Regions from separate parts of the Homo sapiens genome. Here all the other regions are linked to region 2. Evidence: fine-mapped expression QTL. A gene starts in region 2. Each other region holds a variant in brackets. All regions are shown on one strand. Distances are from middle to middle.

Region 1 (4,881 bases), 100 kb after region 2:
GTCCTCATTTCTGATCATTTCTTTTGGTAGCACCCCAGCAGTCAGTGACTACTCTAGAATTGCTTTGGGTCCTAAACGGGGTCCATCTGTTACTGAAAAGGAGGTGCTGACGTGCATCCTTTGCCAAGAAGAACAGGAGGTGAAAATAGAAAATAATGCCATGGTATTATCGGCCTGTGTCCAGAAATCTACTGCCTTAACCCAGCACAGGGGAAAACCCATAGAACTCTCAGGAGGTATGTATTATTTAATAAATATCCTTTTGTGCATTTCTTTTCATGCCTGTGTAATTAAAGAAAATACTATTTGAAAAACATTTGGAAATAAGGGTTATATATCTACCATACCATTATCATATTTAAGAAAGTAATAATAATCCAGGAATATTATCTAATATAAAATCAATTTTTCTCCAACAGTTCTCAAAATGTCTTCAATTCCTAGACTTTTTTTTTCACTTAGGATCCAAACAAACACGTGTTGCTTTGGCTATATTTCCTTTACTCTATTTTAATCCAGATTAGTCCCTCCTTTTTTTATGATAGTAGCTTTTTTGAAGAATTCAGGCCACTTGCTTTGTATAATGTGTCACATTCTGAATTTATCTGATTGTTAAGTTGCCTCCTGATTAGAATCATGTTAAACATTTTCTTGGCAGGAATGCTAATTAGATAATTTATTGCACTTATTACATCAGGAATTAGCTGCTTTAGCATCATTATTATTTTAAAATATCCTTGGAATAGGCCAGACATGGTGGCTCACGCCTGTAATCCCAGCACTTTGGGAAGCCGGTGTGGGTGGATCACTTGAGCTCAGGAGTTTGAGACCAGCCTAGGCAACATGGCGAAACCTCGTCTTTACAAACATATTAGCCAGGCATGGTTGCATGAGCCTGTGGTCCACAACAGGGTGAGACCCTGTCTCAAAACAAACAAAACAAGCTCCTTGGAATAATAGTGATAATAAAGACTAGCATTTATTGAAAACTTAACATTGCCAGGCACTTGTTAAGTGCTTTATGTGTATTTACTTACTTAATCCTCACAACAGCCCTATGAGTTAGTTATCACTATTAGTTCCATTTTATAGATGAAGGACCTGAGGCACAGAGAGGTCAAGTAACTTACCCATGGCCATGAGTTACAAGTGATGAAACCAGAATTTGAAATCCTCAATCTGTGCTTTTCTTTTCTTTTTTTTTTTTTCTTTTTTTTTTTTTTAGTATTTATTGATCATTCTTGGGTGTTTCTCCGAGAGGGGGATTTGGCAGGGTCATAGGACAATAGTGGAGGGAAGGTCAGCAGATAAACATGTGAACAAGGGTCTCTGGTTTTCCTAGGCAGAGGACCCTGCGGCCTTCCGCAGTGTTTGTGTCCCTGGGTACTTGAGATTAGGGAGTGGTGATGACTCTTAACGAGCATGCTGCCTTCAAGCATCTGTTTAACAAAGCACATCTTGCCCCGCCCTTAATCCATTTAACCCTGAGTGGACACAGCACATGTTTCAGAGAGCACGGGGTTGGGGGTAAGGTTATAGATTAACAGCATCCCAAGGCAGAAGAATTTTTCTTAGTACAGAACAAAATGGAGTCTCCCATGTCTACTTCTTTCTACACAGACACAGTAACAATCTGATCTCTCTCATTTCCCCACATTTCCCCCTTTTCTATTCCACAAAACCGCCATCGTCATCATGGCCCGTTCTCAATGAGCTGTTGGGTACACCTCCCAGACGGGGTGGTGGCCGGGCAGAGGGGCTCCTCACTTCCCAGACGGGGTGGCTGGACAGAGGCGCCCCCCCACCTCCCAGACGGAGCGGCTGGCTGGGCAGGGGCTGCCCCCCCACCTCCCTCCCAGATGGGGTGGCTGGCCGGGCGGGGGCTGCCCCCCACCTCCCTCCAAGACAGGGCGGCTGGCCGGGCGGGGGCTGCCCCTCACCTCCCTCCCGGATGGGGCGGCTGGCCAGGCGGGGGCTGCCCCCCACCTCCCGGATGGGGCGGCTGCCGGGCGGGGGCTGCCCCCCACCTCCCTCCCGGAAGGGGCAGCTGGCCGGGCAGAGGCTGCCCCCCCACCTCCTGGACCGGGCGGCTGCCGGGCGGAGATGCTCCTCACTTCCCAGATGGGGCGGCTGCTGGGCGGAGGGGCTCTTCACTTCCCAGATGGGGTGGCTGCCGGGCGGAGGGGCTCCTCACTTCTCAGACGGGGCGGCTGGGCAGAGACACTCCTCACATCCCAGATGGGGTGGCGGTCGGGCAGAGACGCTCCTCAGTTCCCAGACGGGGTCGCGGCTGGGCAGAAGCACTCCTCACATCCCAGATGGGGCGGCGTGGCAGAGGTGCTCCCCACATCTCAGACGATGGGTGCCGGGCAGAGACACTCCTCACTTCCTAGACGGGATGGCGGCTGGGAAGAGGTGCTCCTCACTTCCCAGACTGGGCGGCTGGGCAGAGGGGCTCCTCACATCCCAGACGATGGGCGGCCAGGCAGAGCCGCTCCTCACTTCCCAGACGGGGTGGCGGCTGGGCAGAGGCTGCAATCTCGGCACTTTGGGAGGCCAAGGCAGGCGGCTGGGAGGAGGGGGTTGTAGCGAGCCGAGATCAC[G/A]CCACTGCACTCCAGCCTGGGCACCATTGAGCACTGAGTGAGCGAGACTCCGTCTGCAATCCCGGCACCTCGGGAGGCTGAGGCAGGCAGATCACTCGCGGTCAGGAGCTGGAGACCAGCCCGGCCAACAGGGCGAAACCCCGTCTCCACCAAAAAAATGCAAAAACCAGTCAGGCGTGGCGGCGTGTGCCTGCAATCCCAGGCACTCTGCAGGCTGAGGCAGGAGAATCAGGCAGGGAGGTTGCAGTGAGCCGAGATGGCGGCAGTACAGTCCAGCCTCGGCTTTCACAACTTTGGTGGCATCAGAGGGAGACCGGGGACAGGGAGAGGGAGAGGAGGGAGAGGAGGGAGAGGAGAGGAGGGAGAGAGAGAGGAAGAGGGAGATCCAATCTGTGCTTTTCTTAATGAGGTTATAATTCCCCTAAGTATCCCTTAAAATTATTATTTATCAAATTACTATTAAAATTAAAAAAGTAAATTATCTTGGAAACATAGAAGATCACTTAAATAACCAAGATAATGCAGATTAAACCCAATATTCAAGGTTAAAAAGTAAATCAAAGATAGAGTTATTAATCCATACTAATTTTAGAATCATATCTGACAGGCTACCTTTATGCTTTTCTCTTTTGTTACTATTACTTTTCTCTTTTTGTTACTATATATCCTCCTATCATGATATTGTGACACTTTGCTTGGACATTCCTAAGACAGTTTGTGATTAGACTTTGGACCTGATAACCTGTCTCTCTTTTTCCCTCCTTTTTATACCTTGTACCAGAAGCCCTAGACCCACTTTTCATGGATCCAGACTTGGCATATGGAACTTATACAGGAAGCTGTGGTCATGTAATGCACGCAGTGTGCTGGCAGAAGTAAGTTGTCCTTCTGACATGTTCTTGAAAGAGACTAGGAACATTGAAGTTCACTCAAGGCCACAAAAAGGCATGTTTTCTCATGTCTTCTTTCCTTTCTTCTTATTTGAATAATTGAAACAGTTTTAATTACTAATTCTGTTTGCATGAATTATTATTATCAAAGTTGGAAAGTGGTGTGTAAAGTTACCAACTTTAGATTTTCACTGTTCCTTTGTGCTTGCTCTCCATAAACTAATCAGTTGCTCTTCATCAGTATTCATGTAAAAAAAGTAATAATTGGCCGGGCGTGGTGGCTCACACCTGTAATCTCAGCACTTCGGGAGGCCGAGGCAGGAGGATCACCTGAGGTCAGGAGTTTGAGACCAGCCTGGCCAACGTGGTAAAACCCTGTCTCTACTAAAAATACAAAAATTAGCTGAGTGTGGTGGCACATGCTTTTAATCCCAGCTCCTCCGGAGGCTGAGGCAGGAGAATCGCTTGAACCCAGGAGGCAGAGGTTCCAGTGAGCCAAGATTGCGCCATTGCACTCCAGCTTGGGAGACAAGAGCGAAACATCGTCTCAAAAAAATTAATAAACACAACAAATAAATAATAAAAAAGTAATCTTTATAAAAATCTAATTTCTGTCAAAACATACAGCTGTGAAAAGTACCTTTGAAATAGAATAGGATGAATAGGACAAGAAGTTCTCGTTCTATCTCTGGAAAATATAAAATTTCAAAAATGTAATTCCTGAGAAATCTTTTGTGTAGAGTTTACCCATTTGGCTTTAGATTACAATATATAATTTTTCCATGATAGCCCTCACTACTTCAGTTCATCATTAGAAACTGAGGAAAGTAGTGTCCATGCTGTATCACCATGCTGTTGAGGCAAGAGATGAGTTATGATTCAATAAACTTATTTTAAATTTATATCTGCTCTGATGTATTTTCCAATTTGTCCCCAAAATAATGGGCAACCTGTTTCTTCTATAATTACAACTTGTGTGTTTTTGCATGTATGTTCTAAAGATGTTTATTGGGGCAAAAATTCCAGATTTTTAAAACTTGGATTAGAGCAAGTAGAGATACACATGTAGAGATGCATGTGTAGTTCTGAATGGGCCTGTGTCTTTGTAATTTTGCAGGTATTTTGAAGCTGTACAGCTGAGCTCTCAGCAGCGCATTCATGTTGACCTTTTTGACTTGGAAAGTGGAGAATATCTTTGCCCTCTTTGCAAATCTCTGTGCAATACTGTGATCCCCATTATTCCTTTGCAACCTCAAAAGATAAACAGGTATATTTTAATTTATGTTTTGGTTAATTTTTTAAAAGTTGGCCAGGTGCAGTGGCCTGTGATCCCAGCACTTTGGGAGACTGAGATGGGCGGATTGCCAGAGCTCAGGGGTTCGAGACCA
Region 2 (4,881 bases):
GGACACTTGGGTTCCTGCCACCATTTGACTATACTGAATAATGCTTCAATGAACACAGGTATACAAACATCTGTTCAAGACCCTGCTTTCACTTCTTTTGGATATATACCCAGAAGTGGAATTGCTGGATCACATGGGAATTCTATGTCTAATTTTGTTTTTTGAGGAACTGCTACATAACCATCTGTTTTTGCACCACTTAATAAACAGTCCGGCTGGGCGTGGTGGCTCACACCTATAATCCCAGCACTTTGGGAGGCCGAGGCGGGCGGATTACCTGAGGTCGGGAGTTTGAGACCAGCCTGACCAACATGGAGAGACATCGTGTCTACTAAAAATACAAAATTAGCCAGGCATTGTGGTGCATGCCTGTAATCCCAGCTACTTGGGAGGCTGAAGCAGGGGAATTGCTTGAACCCGGGAGGCGGAGGTTGTGGTGAGCTGAGATCACGCCACTGCACTCCAGCCTGGGTAACAAGAGCGAAACTCCATCTGAAAAAATAAATAAATAAGCAGTTCATAATTTCCTTCTCACTTGAAATGCTGTTATCTTTCATGTGTAAAATACTTGAATTTGGTATAAAGTAATAAAGTGAAATGGATAAGAATAGGGCCTTGTGAGTCATTTGAACTGGATTTTATTTATTATTATTTTTTGGTAGAGGTGGGAGTCTTGCTATGTTGCCCATCTCAAACTCCTGGGCTCAAGTAATCCTCCCGCCTTGGCCTCCCAAAGTGCTAACATTACAGGGGTGAGCCATTGTGCTGGCTGAATATCTGCTGTGTCACTTGGAAGCTGCATGTCCCTAACCAAATTATGTAACTTCTCTAAACTTCAGTTTTCTCAGTTTCTCATGACAGTAAAATAGAAGTAGTAACATCTACCTAAAGGATTGTTATTAATATATAGCTAGTGTTATTAATATACTAGTGCTTTGATTACATTAAGATGTTGATAAGTGGCTATTATTTCTTTTTATTTTCTGTTTTTTCTTTTTCTTTTTTTTTTTTTTTGAGACAGAGTTTTGCTCTTGTAGCCCAGGCTGGAGTGCCAGTGGCATGATCTTGGCTCACTGCAAACTCTACCTCCTGGGTTCAAGCAATTTTCCTGCCTCAGCCTCCTGAGTAGCTGGGATTACAGGCACCTGCCACCACACCCAGCTAATTTTTGTATCTTTAATAGACATGGGGTTTCACTGTGTTGTCCAGGCTGGTCTCGAACTCCTGACCTCAGGTGATCCACTCACCTTGGCCTCCCAAAGTGCTGGGATTACAGGCGTGAGCCACTGCCCCGACCTATTTCTGAACGTTCTAGTCTATTTCATTTATCTAGGAATGAAAGAAGAAAAAGAGAAGAGCGTGGGGTAGCATAAGAGAACTACAGAAGTAAAAGCATAGAGACAGGAAGGGACAAGGTAACTTTTAGGGCAATTTTTATCAAAATGTGGGACAATACCTATTGTGGGTTATAGTATCACTTTAATAACTACAACCAGTATTTTGGCTTAAATGCATAAACATATTGCAATTGAATAGAAAATATGACATATTGGAAGTATTGTTTCAGAAAATTTAAGTTTCAGTATATATATACATATTCTATATATACCCATTTAATTTTGTATAGGTGTACCGTGATAAGATGTAAAATGTATTTATTGTGGTTGTTGGGCAAAAAAGGCTGGAAAAACAGTATTTTAGCACCCAGGAAGTAGTTCATTTGAGCAGAAACATTGTTTAGGCAGGAAAGTTCTATAAATCAAGGTGGACCACAGCATTTGGAAAGCCTCCTCTACTTTTCACATTGTTTGGAGCTTTATTTTCTTCCCTTTGTTAAAAATATACTTTAAAATTATTTGTTTTGTAAAAAATTTAAAATACAAATGAAGGTAAAGTAGCTCTTGACCACCTTCTTCCTCCAATCCGAATCCTGGCCCTCAGAGTTACTACTTTGCCCTTTCCCCTTTCAGACTTACTCCTTCACATTTAAATGCCTATGTGTGCAAATATATAGTTTGCAGCAACTTGGCTTTTTTTTCTCTCAATTTATCTTGATCTTTTCACGCAGATTTATCTTGCTCAAGAGCTGCACAGTATTTCAAAATGCGAATGTACCATAGTATATCTTGTCTTTCCTCTATCGATGAATGACTAGGTTTCCAATTTTTTGTTATTTCCCCCCGTGTCCCCCAATAAAGCTGGATCCCGAGCTTTTTTTGTACACATGTGCAAGTGCCCACGGGGTAGAATCCTAAAAATAGAAGATGTGTGAGTACTTTCTTTTTCATTTTGTAGGCTCTGGGGAACTACTGCAGGGAGGTTGGGATACAAAACATCCCCAGGCCAACAACCGGCCAGCTAGGACAGGTTCTTGCTTTAGCCCCCGACAAGTTTTCTTCCTTTCATAATGGACGCTGACTTTGTTTTTTTTACCTCGTAGATGCAACAGTTCCCAGCACCAAACCCAGATATACAACCATTCAGCTACCAAGAGCTACGCCTGATAAATTAGAGGGGAAAAAAAAAATCTCCAGTCCCTTCACGTCGTGACGCTTGCTTCCGGGAAGCGGGCCGGAAGCCACTCCTCGAGTCTGCGTCAAACCCGACTTCAGGGGCCGTCGTAAAAGTGTCGTCCCTGTCTCTCCGACCGGCCACAGGTTTCCGCTTGCCTCTGGCCGGGGGTCGGCAACTGCAGGCGTCAGTTTCCCTCAAGATGGCGGACGAGGAGGCTGGAGGTACTGAGAGGATGGAAATCAGCGCGGAGTTACCCCAGACCCCTCAGCGTCTGGCATCTGTAAGTCCCTATAGGCAAGTCTCTTTTGTCCTCCCCCCGGTCCCTCCCTACTGCGCTTAGGAGGATGTGGGGCTTCACCCCTTATGGCGGCTCTGGGGAGGGGGAGTTATCTGGATTGATCTGGAAGGAAGCCACCGAATAAAAAGTTAGTCGCAACCCACATTTCTGCCAGCCAAGTCTACGGAATATAATGACTTTGTTATGTATTATTCTTGATGATCTCAAGTGTGCATGTCTCTATTCTGAAGTAGAAAGAACCAGTGATGTTATTAGACGGTTTGATGTGGGGGCCGAGGCGGGGTTGGAGCAAGAGCCATTTTCGTATAGAAGCAGTACTAACCCTTTACTCTTGATGATGGGAACGCAGCACCTGGTATTTTATTGCATAGCCTGCTGGCCGGGACCTGATATTGGTAGGTAGTGCTGCTACTGTCAAGTCATGTCTAGATGTGAGGTGTAGTAATTGTCCTTGCGTATAGCATCTTGGGAACCCCAGGCCTAACCCTCAGTGGAGAAACCCATCATCTGTCGCTACTTTTTAAAGGTGAAGAAAGGACTCCCAAACATTTCAAGCCAGAGCAATACCATTAATTGATGTCGGAATCTATACTTTGCTCTTGCATTTTGAAAGAATGGGAAGGCACAGATAGTGAACAAATTTGAGTCACTAGCTACAGGGAGAAAGCTGCCGAGGAAGATAAGAGTAGGGGGCAATGTTAGGGAATGTTCTGGATGCCCAGGGCATCTAGTGTGGAGATATGTAGAAAATATTCAAATATCTGTCACCGCATGATGTTTTATTAGTTTGTCTTTCTAAATAGCAGCATTTAGAGATTTGGGATATACACATTTTTTCTGAAGTTTCTTTGGCTTGTAGTTTAATAAAAACATTATTTTATTTTATTTATTTTTTGAGGCAGAGTTTTGCTCTTGTTGCCCAGGCTGAAGTGCAGTGGTGTAATCTCGGCTCACTGCAACCTTCCGAGTTCAGGAATTGAACTGCAAATTCCCGAGTTCAGGAATTCTCCTGCCTCAGCCTCTTGAGTAGCTGGGATTACAGGTGCCTGCCACCATGCTTGCCTAATTTTTTTTATTTTTATTTTTATTAGAGACGGGGTTTCACCATGTTGGCCAGGCTGATCTCGAACTCCTGACCTCAGGTGATCCACCTGCCTCGGCATCCCAAAGTGCTGGGATTACAGATTAAAAGCATTCTTGAAGGTTTTTTGTTTTTTTTTTTAACCCTGCATACAATTGAACATTGTTTTATGCGAGAACAGAGGGAACTACAGAGGGAGCTACGGCATGAGTCAACTCCAGGGACTGAAGAGACTGTCTAGGAGGTAGGAACAAGGTAGGGAGGGAGTTGGAAAAAGGATTTGGCCACTGACTATGTCAGTGCTTGCCGTTTTCCTCCACCCCAAATAGCAGTTCAAATTCACTTCACTACTGTTCCTGAAGGAGGAAGCATCTTATTTGAGATGATAAGGAATGAGGAGGTAGGACAAATTTAAAAGCAACTGAAACATTTTAATGGTAGTTTGTGAGTTTTGCTTGTTAGAAGGAGTGGGGAAACTGCTGTGGTCAGAAGAATTGTTATAGTTTTGTATCTGAAGACTAATATTTATTTAAAGCTTTGATACATTAATTTTTTCCAGATAATACAATAAAACCCCATCATTCTGGACGTCACTAATTTGGAATTGGAGATAATGATACAGGAATTGAGCTAGAATTTATGTGGCAACTCTTTACCTCAGGAAATATTATTAGATTTTGTTGGGCAGGGCTTTGGGTTTTGCAAAGTAGTAGGTAGATTGTGTAATATAGCCTCAAGGAACTCACAGTCTGGTGACACAGGTAATATAAGGGCCCAAATAATTTTAATTCAAGGTAGAGTAATGTCAGTAAATGAAGTCCTGTGACTGTTAAGCTTTATAACCCCTTTTTTGGCTTGGATCTCTCTGTCTACTGAAGACCCTACAGATCATTCTACCTCTCTCTTTCTCTTTTTCTCTTTTAAAAGCTATTACTGTTTTTAATTTTATTCTAGCCATGGTATGACACTGGCTTCCAAGTTTACTACT
Region 3 (4,881 bases), 480 kb after region 2:
CTGTATCAAAATATCTCATGTACCTCATAAATATATATACCTACTATGTACCCATAATTTTTTTTCTTTTTCTGAAACAAGGTTTCCCTCTGCTGCCCAGGCTAGAGTACAGTGGCACAATCACAGCTTACTGCAGCCTCAACTTCCCAGGCTCAAGCAATCCTCCCACCTTAGCCTCCCAAGTAGCTGGGACTACAGGCACATGTCCCCATGCCCAGCTAATTTTTGTATTTTTTGTAGAGATGGAGTTTTGCCATGTTACCCAGGCTGGTGTCAAACTCCTGGACTCAAAGCGATCCACCCACCTTGGCCTCCCAGAAAACAATTGGCCAAGCACGGTGGTACACACTTGTAATACCAGCACTTTGGGAGGCTGAGAGGCCTCAGCTACTTGGGAGGCTGAAGTTGAAGGATCGCTTTAGCCGCGGAGGTAGAAGTTGCAGTGAGCCGACATCACACCACTGCACTCCATCTACCTGGGGTGACAGAGAGAGACGCTGTCTTGAAAAAAAAAAACTGATATCAAAAACCCTCACATAAACCATTAAATTAAAGATGGCCAGGCGCGGTGGCTCACACCTGTAATCTCAGCACTTTGGGAGGCCGAGGTGGGTGGATCACCTGGGGTCAGGAGTTCGAGACCAGCCTGACCAACACGGTGAAACCCCGTCTCTACTAAAAAAAAAAAAAAAAATACAAAATTAGCTGAGCGTGGTGGCGCATGCCTGTAATCCCAGCTACTCAGGAGGCTGAGACAAGAGAATCATTAGAACCCGGGAGGCGGAGGCTGCAGTGAGCCGAAATCGCGCCACTGCGCTCCAGCCTGGGCAACAAGAATGAAACTCTTTCCCCTGCCACAAAAAAAAAAAAAGAAGAGGAAGAGGAAGAGGATGAAGAGGAGGAAGAGGAGAAGGAAGAGGAGGAGGAGAAGGAAGAAGAAGAAGAGGAGGAGGAGGAGGAAGAAGAGGAGGAGGAAGAGGAAGAGGAGGAAGAGGAGGAAGAAGAGGAAGAGGAAGAAGAGGAAGAGGAAGAAGAGGAAGAGGAGGAAGAAGAGGAAGAGGAAGAAGGGGAGGAAGAGGAAGAGGAGGAAGAGGAGGAGGAAGAGGAAGAGGAAGAGGAAGAAGAAGAAGAAGAATTAAAACTCTTGCCAGGTGTGGTGGCTCATGCCTGTAATCCCAGCACTTTGGGAGGCCGAGGCAGGCAGATCACCTGAGGTCAGGAGTTCTGAGACCAGCCTGGCCAACATGGTGAAACCCTGTCTCTACTAAAAAATACAACAATTAGCCAGGCGTGGTGGCAGGTGCCTGTAATGCCAGTTACTTGGGAAGCTGAGGCAGGAGAATAACTCGAACTTAGGAGGCAGAGGCTGCAGTGAGCCGATATCGCACCACTGTGCTCCAGCCTGGGCGACAGAACTAGACTCTGTCTCAAAAAGATAAATAAATAAAATAATAATAATAATAACTCTTTCTTCATGTCTTGAAGGTTTTGTTAGGGCTTAGGGGTCATTCTTTTTCTTTTATAAATACGAAAATCATTCCACTGAGAGAGAGGTTAGTTATTCAACAAAATACATGTAGTACTCAGCCCTTAATACCTTCCCACAGAAAAGTTTCATGCATGTCTATTACAAACTGAAATTGCTATTAAAAACTAAAATTTTCACACAGAAAAGAAGTTCTTCATTAGTTTTTCTTAATCTACCTAAAAAAAAAAAAAAATAGGAAGAAGAAAATAGCAGCCAGGCATGGTGGCTCATGCCTGTAAACCCAGCACTTTGGGAGGCCAAGGTGGGTGGATCACCTGAGGTCAGGAGTTCGAGACCAGCCTGGCCAACATGGTGAAACCCCATCTCTACTAAAATATAAAAATTAGCCGGGAGTGGTGGCGTGTGTCTGTAATCCCAGCTACTTGGAAGGCTGAGACAAGAGAACTGCTTGAGCCCGGGAGGCAGAGGTTGCAGTGAGCCGAGATCGCGCCACTGCACTCTAGTCTGGGCGACAGAGTCAGACTCTGTCTCCAAAAACAGAAAATAGCTTTAAGGCTGGGGGTGGTGGCTCATGCCTGTAATCCCAGCACTTTGGGGGGCTGAGGTGGGTGGACCACTTGAGATCAGAAATATGAGACTAGCCTGGCCAACATGGTGAAACCCCATCTCTACTAAAAATACAAAAATTAG[C/T]CGGGTGTGGTGGTACACATCTGTAATCCCAGCTACTTGGGAGGCTGAGGCAGGAGAATCGTTTGAACCTGGGAGGCAGAGGTTGCAGTGGGCCAAGACTGTGCCACCATACTCCAGCCTGGGTGACAGAATGAGACTGTATCAAAAAGAAAATAGCTTTAAATGTCTATGATGTATTCTGTTTAAATGAATTTTAAATATTACTTATCTCTATGGGTCTGTAACTCCATTGTTAAAATAAAAGAATTATATTAGAAAACTTTATTCCTTTTTAGAAAAATTGCTACTAAATGCAGTAACAGATAACATCTTTATTGACAAGTCAGTATTTGTGTATTCACTATGAAAATTATTCTCTCATGCCTGTAAACCCAGAACTTAGGGAGGCCAGGGCAGGTGAATCACCTGAGGTCAGGAGTTCGAGACCAGTCTGGCCAACATGGCGAAACCCTGTCTATATGAAAAATACAAAAATTAGCTGGGCGTGGTGGCGCATGCCTGTAGTCCCAGCTACTTGGGAGGCTTGGGCAGAAGAATCACTTGAACCTGGGAGGCGGAGGTTGCAGCGAGCCAAGATTGCGTCACTGCACTCCAGCCTGGATGACAGAGGGAGACTCTGTCTCAAAAAAAAAAAAAGACAACAGAAAATGGTGATAAACAAAAATGATCCCACTATTCAGAGATAATACATTCTTAACATTTTGGTGGTGAAATTACTCTTTCAGACTTTTGTTTTATTTCTAGATAATATATCTAATGTTCCTTCAAGATCTTAAATTCTGATGTAAATACAGTAATTAAGAATACCTAAATATAATGAGGATACTAAGCTGAACCTTGTTTTGTTATATTATAGACATAAATAGTGTTTTTCTGTTTATGCTTAGACAACTTAATATTTTTCATTTTAATTAGTAATTAAAATTTTCTATTTAATTTCCCAATGTATATAGCATGGGAAAGCATACTATAGCTCCACTCACAAGGCATCCAAGCCTTACATAAGCCACTGTCCACTTGGCAGTAGCTTACCCAAAGTGTGAACAGTCTAACAAGGGAAAGTGTCATCTGTGCCAGCTTTGCAAACATAAACCCACAGTTTCAGGAAATACTGTCCACACTTCATAAATGTCAGGTAAATTCTGGGCTGTTCCTTCAATCCCACTACAGGCCATTCATCTTTGGGTCTCTACCCAATATAAATGTTTATAGATGCATCTATTCCCATTGTAAGCCTAGCTAGAAGTTAACTGACATAATTTGGGCCCTGGCCCAAGTGTGGACCAGATACTATCCCTGATAAATTGCAGATTTTTCCAGGCAACAGCCTATATGTAACTTTGACAAATGAGTCTAGATTTCCTATTTGCCTTCTCCATTTTATGCTGTGAAATACAGAGATTTATTTCCCATGTTCGTCCACATTTTACATTTATCCATGCAATGCATACCATGGAAATTGGTATTTAAACAGTTCCCAAAGAACAAGAGAAGGGAGAGACTACAACAGAAATTTTGAAATGAAGGTAAACACGAACAAAGCCAAATGAAATCTATGCCATACCCAACGGAAAGAAAGAAGAGTCATTATTTTGAAAGAAATGAGTCTTGAACCATCCAAGTCCCAGAACTAGAATTCTCTTAATCTTGGAAGAAAGTATTTATTGAGTTCCTAACAGGAACCCAGCACCACACAGGACACTGAGAGAGGTTTGAAAAACCTTTCAAACACTGTCTTCAGTCCACAACAAACTTATCATATAGTTGGAGAGATAGACCATAGAGTCAGTAAACAGTTCAATACCAGTACATAGTAGAATATGAATAAAGAGGAGACATAAATATTATATTTGGAGAAAGGAAAATGACTGTGGCCTGAGGTAGTGAGGGAAATATTCATAGCAGTGTTGGCATTTGATCGGCATCTTTTTTTTTTTGAGACAGAGTTTCGCTCTTGTTGCCCAGGCTGGAGTGCAATGGCACAATCTCAGCTCACTGCAACCTCCGCCTCCCAGGTTCAAGCAATTCTCCTGCCTCAGCCTCCCAGGTAGCTGGGATTACAGGCATGCACCACCACACCCAGCTAATTTTTGTATTTTTAGTAGAGGTGGGGATTCTCCATGTTGGTCTGGCTGGTTTCAAACTCCCGACCTCAGGTGATCTGCCTGCTTCCGCCTCCCAAAGTGCTGGGATTACAGGCGTGAGCTACCACGCCTGGCCCTGATCTGCATCTTAAGCTATACTTACTTATTTCAAAGCACACTTTGAGAGAGGTCCCTACCTTGAAGCCCCACATAATGTCCCCAGATAAAGGCCTCTCTTCAGTGAGGTTGACCCCAGGACTGTATCACCATAAAATATAAAATGTATCCTTTTCATTTCAATCCTTCAGAACATCAGAGCTCTGGACAAAACAGGAGAACAACCATGTCACATGACTCCCTCTGAAAAATCTTTGTACTTCCATTTGTCATCTCTTAATACCTCACTGTCAACCTTGGAAAGTTCATAGTTACAACTAAAGATCTCCCACCTCAGGAACAACAGATACCCAGGCAAGTAACCACAGAGACAGTCAAACAAATCTCTCTGCCCCACCCCTTCCTTCAAGTTAGTTTTATTTGAACAAGGAAGTATGGATCCAAAACGGAGAGACATCCGCTGGGCAGTGGCTCATGCCTGAAGTCCCAGCTAATCAAGAG
Region 4 (4,881 bases), 160 kb after region 2:
ACCCATGAGCGTGGAATGTTCTTCCATTTGTTTGTATCCTCTTTTATTTCATTGAGCAGTGGTTTGTAGTTCTCCTTGAAGAGGTCCTAAACGTCCCTTGTAAGTTGGATTCCTAAGTATTTTATTCTCTTTGAAGCAATTGTGAATGGAAGTTCACTCATGATTTGGCTCTCTGTTTGTCTGTTATTGGTGTATAAGAATGCTGGTGATTTTTGTACATTGATTTTGTATCCTGAGACTTTGCTGAAGTTGCTTATCAGCTTAAGGAGATTTTGGGCTGAGACAATGGGGTTTTCTAGATATACAATCATGTCATCTGCAAACAGGGACAATTTGACTTCCTCTTTTCCTAATTGAATACCCTTTATTTCCTTCTCCTGCCTAATTGCCCTGGCCAGAACTTCCAACACTATGTTGAATAGGAGTGGTGAGAGAGGGCATCCCTGTCTTGTAGCACATAATTTTCAACAACTTCTCCAAAATTTGAAGGTAGTGTTTCCCCAAAATTTTTAAAGACACCAGCCATCTTAATGTTTCAGTGTTCTATTGTTTGTAATCAACCTTTCTTCAGAACTACTTAAAAGGATTGACACTGATAGTATAAGTTTGTAGTGTCCAGTGATGAAGTTTGTTTTAGAGATATTGTTTCCATTGCAATACTTGAAACTTTTTTTTTCTTTGTTTTTTGAGACAGTCTCTCACTCTGTCACCCAGGCTGGATCTCGGCTCACTGCAACGTCTACCTCCAGGGTTCAAGCGATTCTCCTGCCTCAGCCTCCCAAGTAGCTGGGACTACAGACATGCACCACCACACCCGGCTAATTTTTTTTGTATTTTTAGTAGTGACGGGGTTTTACTGTGTTGGCCAGACTGGTCTCGAACTCCTGACCTCAGTTGATCTGCCCACCTTGGACTCCCAAAGTGCTGGGATTACAGGCATGAGCCACTGCACCCAACTGAGACTTTTTATTAGCCAGCTATATCAGCCTTCTTTCCTTCTGAGCATTAACAAAATATTTAGAATCCTGAACTTTTCTGTATCCTTCCCTGGTGGTAGGAACTGGGGTCCTACTGATGACTTATGAAAATGAGGAGACTGACAGTGATCTCAAAAGTACATATAGATAAAGATTAGACCTCCTTACAATAAACTCTTTTTGGTTCACTGAAATTTTGTTCCTTTGAAATATTGCTCAGAAAGAATACACTTATTAGATGGGGCTTGGGACCTTGGATCACACAGAGCTTTCTTTTTATTGGGATGACATTTGACCTGTCTTTAGGTTTAGGGAGAAAAGCAGAGTGGTGAAAGTAGTTAATGACTGAGAATCTTAGTTGTTCCACAAGGGTACAAAGCAGAGTTTTAACATTAATTTGGCAGTTTAAAAATCCCCAACCAGGCGGCCGCGGTGGTTCACGCCTGTAATCCCAGCACTTTGGGAGGCCGAGGCGGGCGGATCACGAGGTCAGGAGTTCGAGACTAGCCTGGCCAACATTGTGAAACCCCGTCTCTACTAAAAATACAAAAACAATTAGCCAGGTATCGTGGCGGGCACCTGTAATCCCAGCTACTCTGGAGGCTGAGGCAGGAGAATTGCTTGAAACTGGAAGGCAGAGGTTGCCCTGAGCCGTGATCGTACCACGGCACTCCAGCCTGGGCAAAAAGAGCGAAACTCCATCTCCAAAAAACAAAAACAAAAACAAAAAAAATCCCCAACCAGCTGAGAGACTTGAATGTCTCAAGGAATTAGGATCTCACAGTTCTCCGTTACTGGCAACAGCCAGACTTAAGTCATTTTGGATTAGCTGTTATACAGTGTTAAAAACTGTGCAACTCTAGAATTGAAGTATAATTATTTTATTAAATTATTTGCTAATAACCAGCCAGTTTTTTGTATCGTAAGGACAGTTACAACCAAATATCTCTGAGTAGCAAAATATAATTTTAGGGCCTAGTGTTATACGTCAGGCCTAACCTCTACTGTGCAAAGATCATAAATTGAAGCTAGATAACAATATGAAGCCAAAAAGCTATTCAAGCTAACCACCAAAAAAGAATAGTGCTGCTTCAAGTTATAAACCTCAGTGACCATTTAAGTGAGGTCCCATAATGCCATAATATACCTGACCTATTTTATGAATGGTCAAGGAGTACATTTCTGCTTTATTAGCTAAGTAGCCTGTCAAGTTCTTAGTGATCAATGGTGAAGGGAAAATATCCCTTTTTAAGCCCTGTGCTGGTGAGTCCTCCCGGCTCCAGGAACATCTCAAGAGTGCATACTAATTTAGACAATAAAGATGTGGCAGTTACTAGATTCAAACTTACATGTTGTTTTTTCTTTTTTCCCTAAAGGAGGGGCAACCCCCTTCATTTATCTCGTGAGCGGTATCGGAAGCTCCATTTGGTCTGGCAACAACACTGCATTATAGAAGAGATTGCTAGGAGCCAAGAGACTAATCAGATGTTATTTGGATTCAACTGGCAGTTACTGTGAGCTCCAACTCTGCCTCAAGACAATCACAAATGACGACAGTAGTAAAGGCTGATTCAAAATTATGGAAAACTTTCTGAGGGCTGGGAAAGTATTGGAGGGTCTTTTGCTCCAT[G/A]TCCAGGTTCACTTACATCAATAAAATATTTCTTAATGGAGTATTGCTTTCAATTAGCAAACATATGCTTCACAGGAAAAAAGGACATAGATCAATCTGTTTTATGTGCTAGTATTTCCAGGAATTTATTCCCCTTCATAATTTGTCTCATTTCATTTTATTTCATCCACTTGGTAGATGAAGTCACGTCAAACAGTTGTAGACATTTTATATGTTGGTTAACTCTTCTGCAATTTTGTATTTGGTGTTTTCCCCCCAAGTTTAGTTCAACTGACATTGGATCACTGACAAAATTCTAATAATCTGTGATAGTCTTCCTTGCAGTTAAAGAAGAATTGCAGAAACCATGCAATATACTTGGGAAAGATTCCAAAAATAAATTTTTTATTATTTCTCTTTTAAGGAAATACCCCTAATGTGCCACCTGCTGCTATCACCACAAATTAAACTCAATCTCTATGTGGACAGAGGATGATTTCTGCCAATATGGAAAAGCTTTTTTCTCACTGTAGGCCTCAAGAAAAGTTAGGGTAATGTATTTGTTATTCATTCCTGACGGTACAAAGAGCTTGCAGTTCTCACCTCTGACTACCAGTAGCTTTGTTGAGTTTTGAAATAATACTTGACATTTTCCAAAGGCAAATCTCATTCTGCAAGGAGATTGTGGCACCATCCTGTTTGACTCTCAGAAACCTCTTGTAATTCTGATGTAAAAACTGTAGAATGAAGATGAGAAAATTCTCGCAATGAGTGGATCATGACAACTGTAAATTAGAACAATCAGATTTAAACCAATTCCGCAGTCTTCTATATCTTTGTAAAAGACAAATCCTTGATGTTGTCTGTGTGCAACCTTTTCATAAACTCTGGTTTTATGACTAGTACAAACCACCAAAAAAGCCATGTGATCAATAGTCTGTGTCCTGTTATAACATGCTGTGGTTGAGCCATCTTGTTTATAAATAATAGAGCTCTCCTGAATTTGTGCATAGACTTCTTGGTTCCTGGCTTTTGTTTTTTGTATCAAGAGATTGTGATATAAAACAGCAGAAGATAAATGGAAACCTTCCATTTTAACTTACGTTGTTTCTGGGGTAATGTTAGAACCTTGAAAGATGCATTCAAAGACTGTATCTTATTTTGCCCTTGGCTATTAGTGTCTCACATATGTGTGTAAATGTTTTCCTACCTTCTTTTTGCTCAGCAAAGGCAAGCAAGTAAAATATATTTGCTAAGTGATTAGTGATGCACATTTGGGGCTAGATTTTTTTGGTACTTTTATGTAAAGAAAAGTGGATTTTGCAGTAAGGGATTGGCATGAGCAGGCGTCAGAATCACAATCATGATTTTCTACTTGAATAATTACAATTCAGAAGGTATCTGGATAAATAGATACATGTCTAGTGAACAATTTGTAACAATAACAGGTAAGGATCAGGAAATTCAGTATTCAGTTTGTCAGATTTGCCAGAATGATGAAAGTATTTGAACATGTGTGTTTGTTTCTTATATAATTGTATTGAGTGGATTGTTTGACTGGGAAATCTGGGCTAGAATAGGAAACAGAAGATACTGACTTCTACCCTAATAGATGGGCCCCAATTTAGCAAAGATAAACTGACTTTATTTTTAGTCCTTTTTATATTAACTTAATAAATTCTGGAGTTAGGCTCTCAAGAGGACAGAGGGACTGTCTGGCAATGGCCAGCCAGACCTTTACTGCCAAAGAACCCATTTCATATTGCGTTCCACTGATTGAGATTGATTCAGATTTTTGCACTGTAGATGAGCGTATGTCTCAGTGCTGCCCCAAGCCCCAGGGATTTCTCATTATGTTCAAATGTCCTAGTGATTTACCTTAATCATTGCAAACAATTATGCTTATGAAGTTTACTTACAAACAAGCAACTGAGTCACTTTATTTTCTTTAGTGTAGTATGTGAAGGCACTGGTTCAACAGGATGGCTCCAGAACTGTGTTTTTCTAATGTTTGGTAAGGGGCTAGTGAGAATTTTAATGATATGGTGAAGAAAAATATATCTGTATAATTAATTTATTATATTGGTGTATGGGCTGTGAGTTCACCTTTTAGTGGTCATTTGTCATTTCATAACAACTATGCATTTTGGTTCACTGTGATGATGATCTATATTTAGTGACTGCAACATGTTTATACCACTGATTCAAATTCCATCCATGATGAAGTTATACAAATAATGCATATATTGATAACTTTTATTGCAAAAATGTAAATTTAAAACTTGTATAATGTTC

Which allele goes with the higher level. Alleles are on the strand shown, and positions count from the first base shown. SD is a standard deviation of normalised expression in the study named. Not every link is listed here.
With allele T in place of C in region 3, the expression in monocytes after LPS of the gene that starts at base 2,698 in region 2 is lower (large effect, 0.76 SD a copy in Fairfax 2014).

The links. PIP is the estimated chance that this variant, and not a neighbour inherited with it, causes the effect.
Region 1: its variant is the best candidate, but not a certain one, in a credible set for the expression of UBR1 in whole blood (INTERVAL, PIP 0.58).
Region 3: its variant is the best candidate, but not a certain one, in a credible set for the expression of UBR1 in monocytes after LPS (Fairfax 2014, PIP 0.81).
Region 4: its variant is the best candidate, but not a certain one, in a credible set for the expression of UBR1 in whole blood (TOPMed, PIP 0.71).

The regions. Positions count from the first base shown.
Region 1 is chr15:43,002,434-43,007,314 of GRCh38, reverse strand. UBR1 (ubiquitin protein ligase E3 component n-recognin 1) reads left to right here. Exons shown (of 47, transcript NM_174916.3): 30 at 31-236; 31 at 3,385-3,478; 32 at 4,611-4,760. Among named protein-coding and RNA genes, the nearest start is that of TTBK2, 84 kb to the right of the region's middle. The variant G/A (reference allele first, on the strand shown) is at 2,604.
Region 2 is chr15:43,103,855-43,108,735 of GRCh38, reverse strand. It overlaps UBR1 (ubiquitin protein ligase E3 component n-recognin 1), which reads left to right and starts at 2,698. Exons shown (of 47, transcript NM_174916.3): 1 at 2,698-2,794. The coding sequence starts at 2,714. RefSeq lists an enhancer at 2,600-2,879.
Region 3 is chr15:42,622,488-42,627,368 of GRCh38, reverse strand. All of the region lies in intron 3 of STARD9 (StAR related lipid transfer domain containing 9), which reads right to left. Among named protein-coding and RNA genes, the nearest start is that of STARD9, 49 kb to the right of the region's middle. The variant C/T (reference allele first, on the strand shown) is at 2,180.
Region 4 is chr15:42,942,943-42,947,823 of GRCh38, reverse strand. It overlaps UBR1 (ubiquitin protein ligase E3 component n-recognin 1), which reads left to right. Exons shown (of 47, transcript NM_174916.3): 47 at 2,354-4,881. The coding sequence ends at 2,495. Among named protein-coding and RNA genes, the nearest start is that of TTBK2, 25 kb to the right of the region's middle. The variant G/A (reference allele first, on the strand shown) is at 2,608.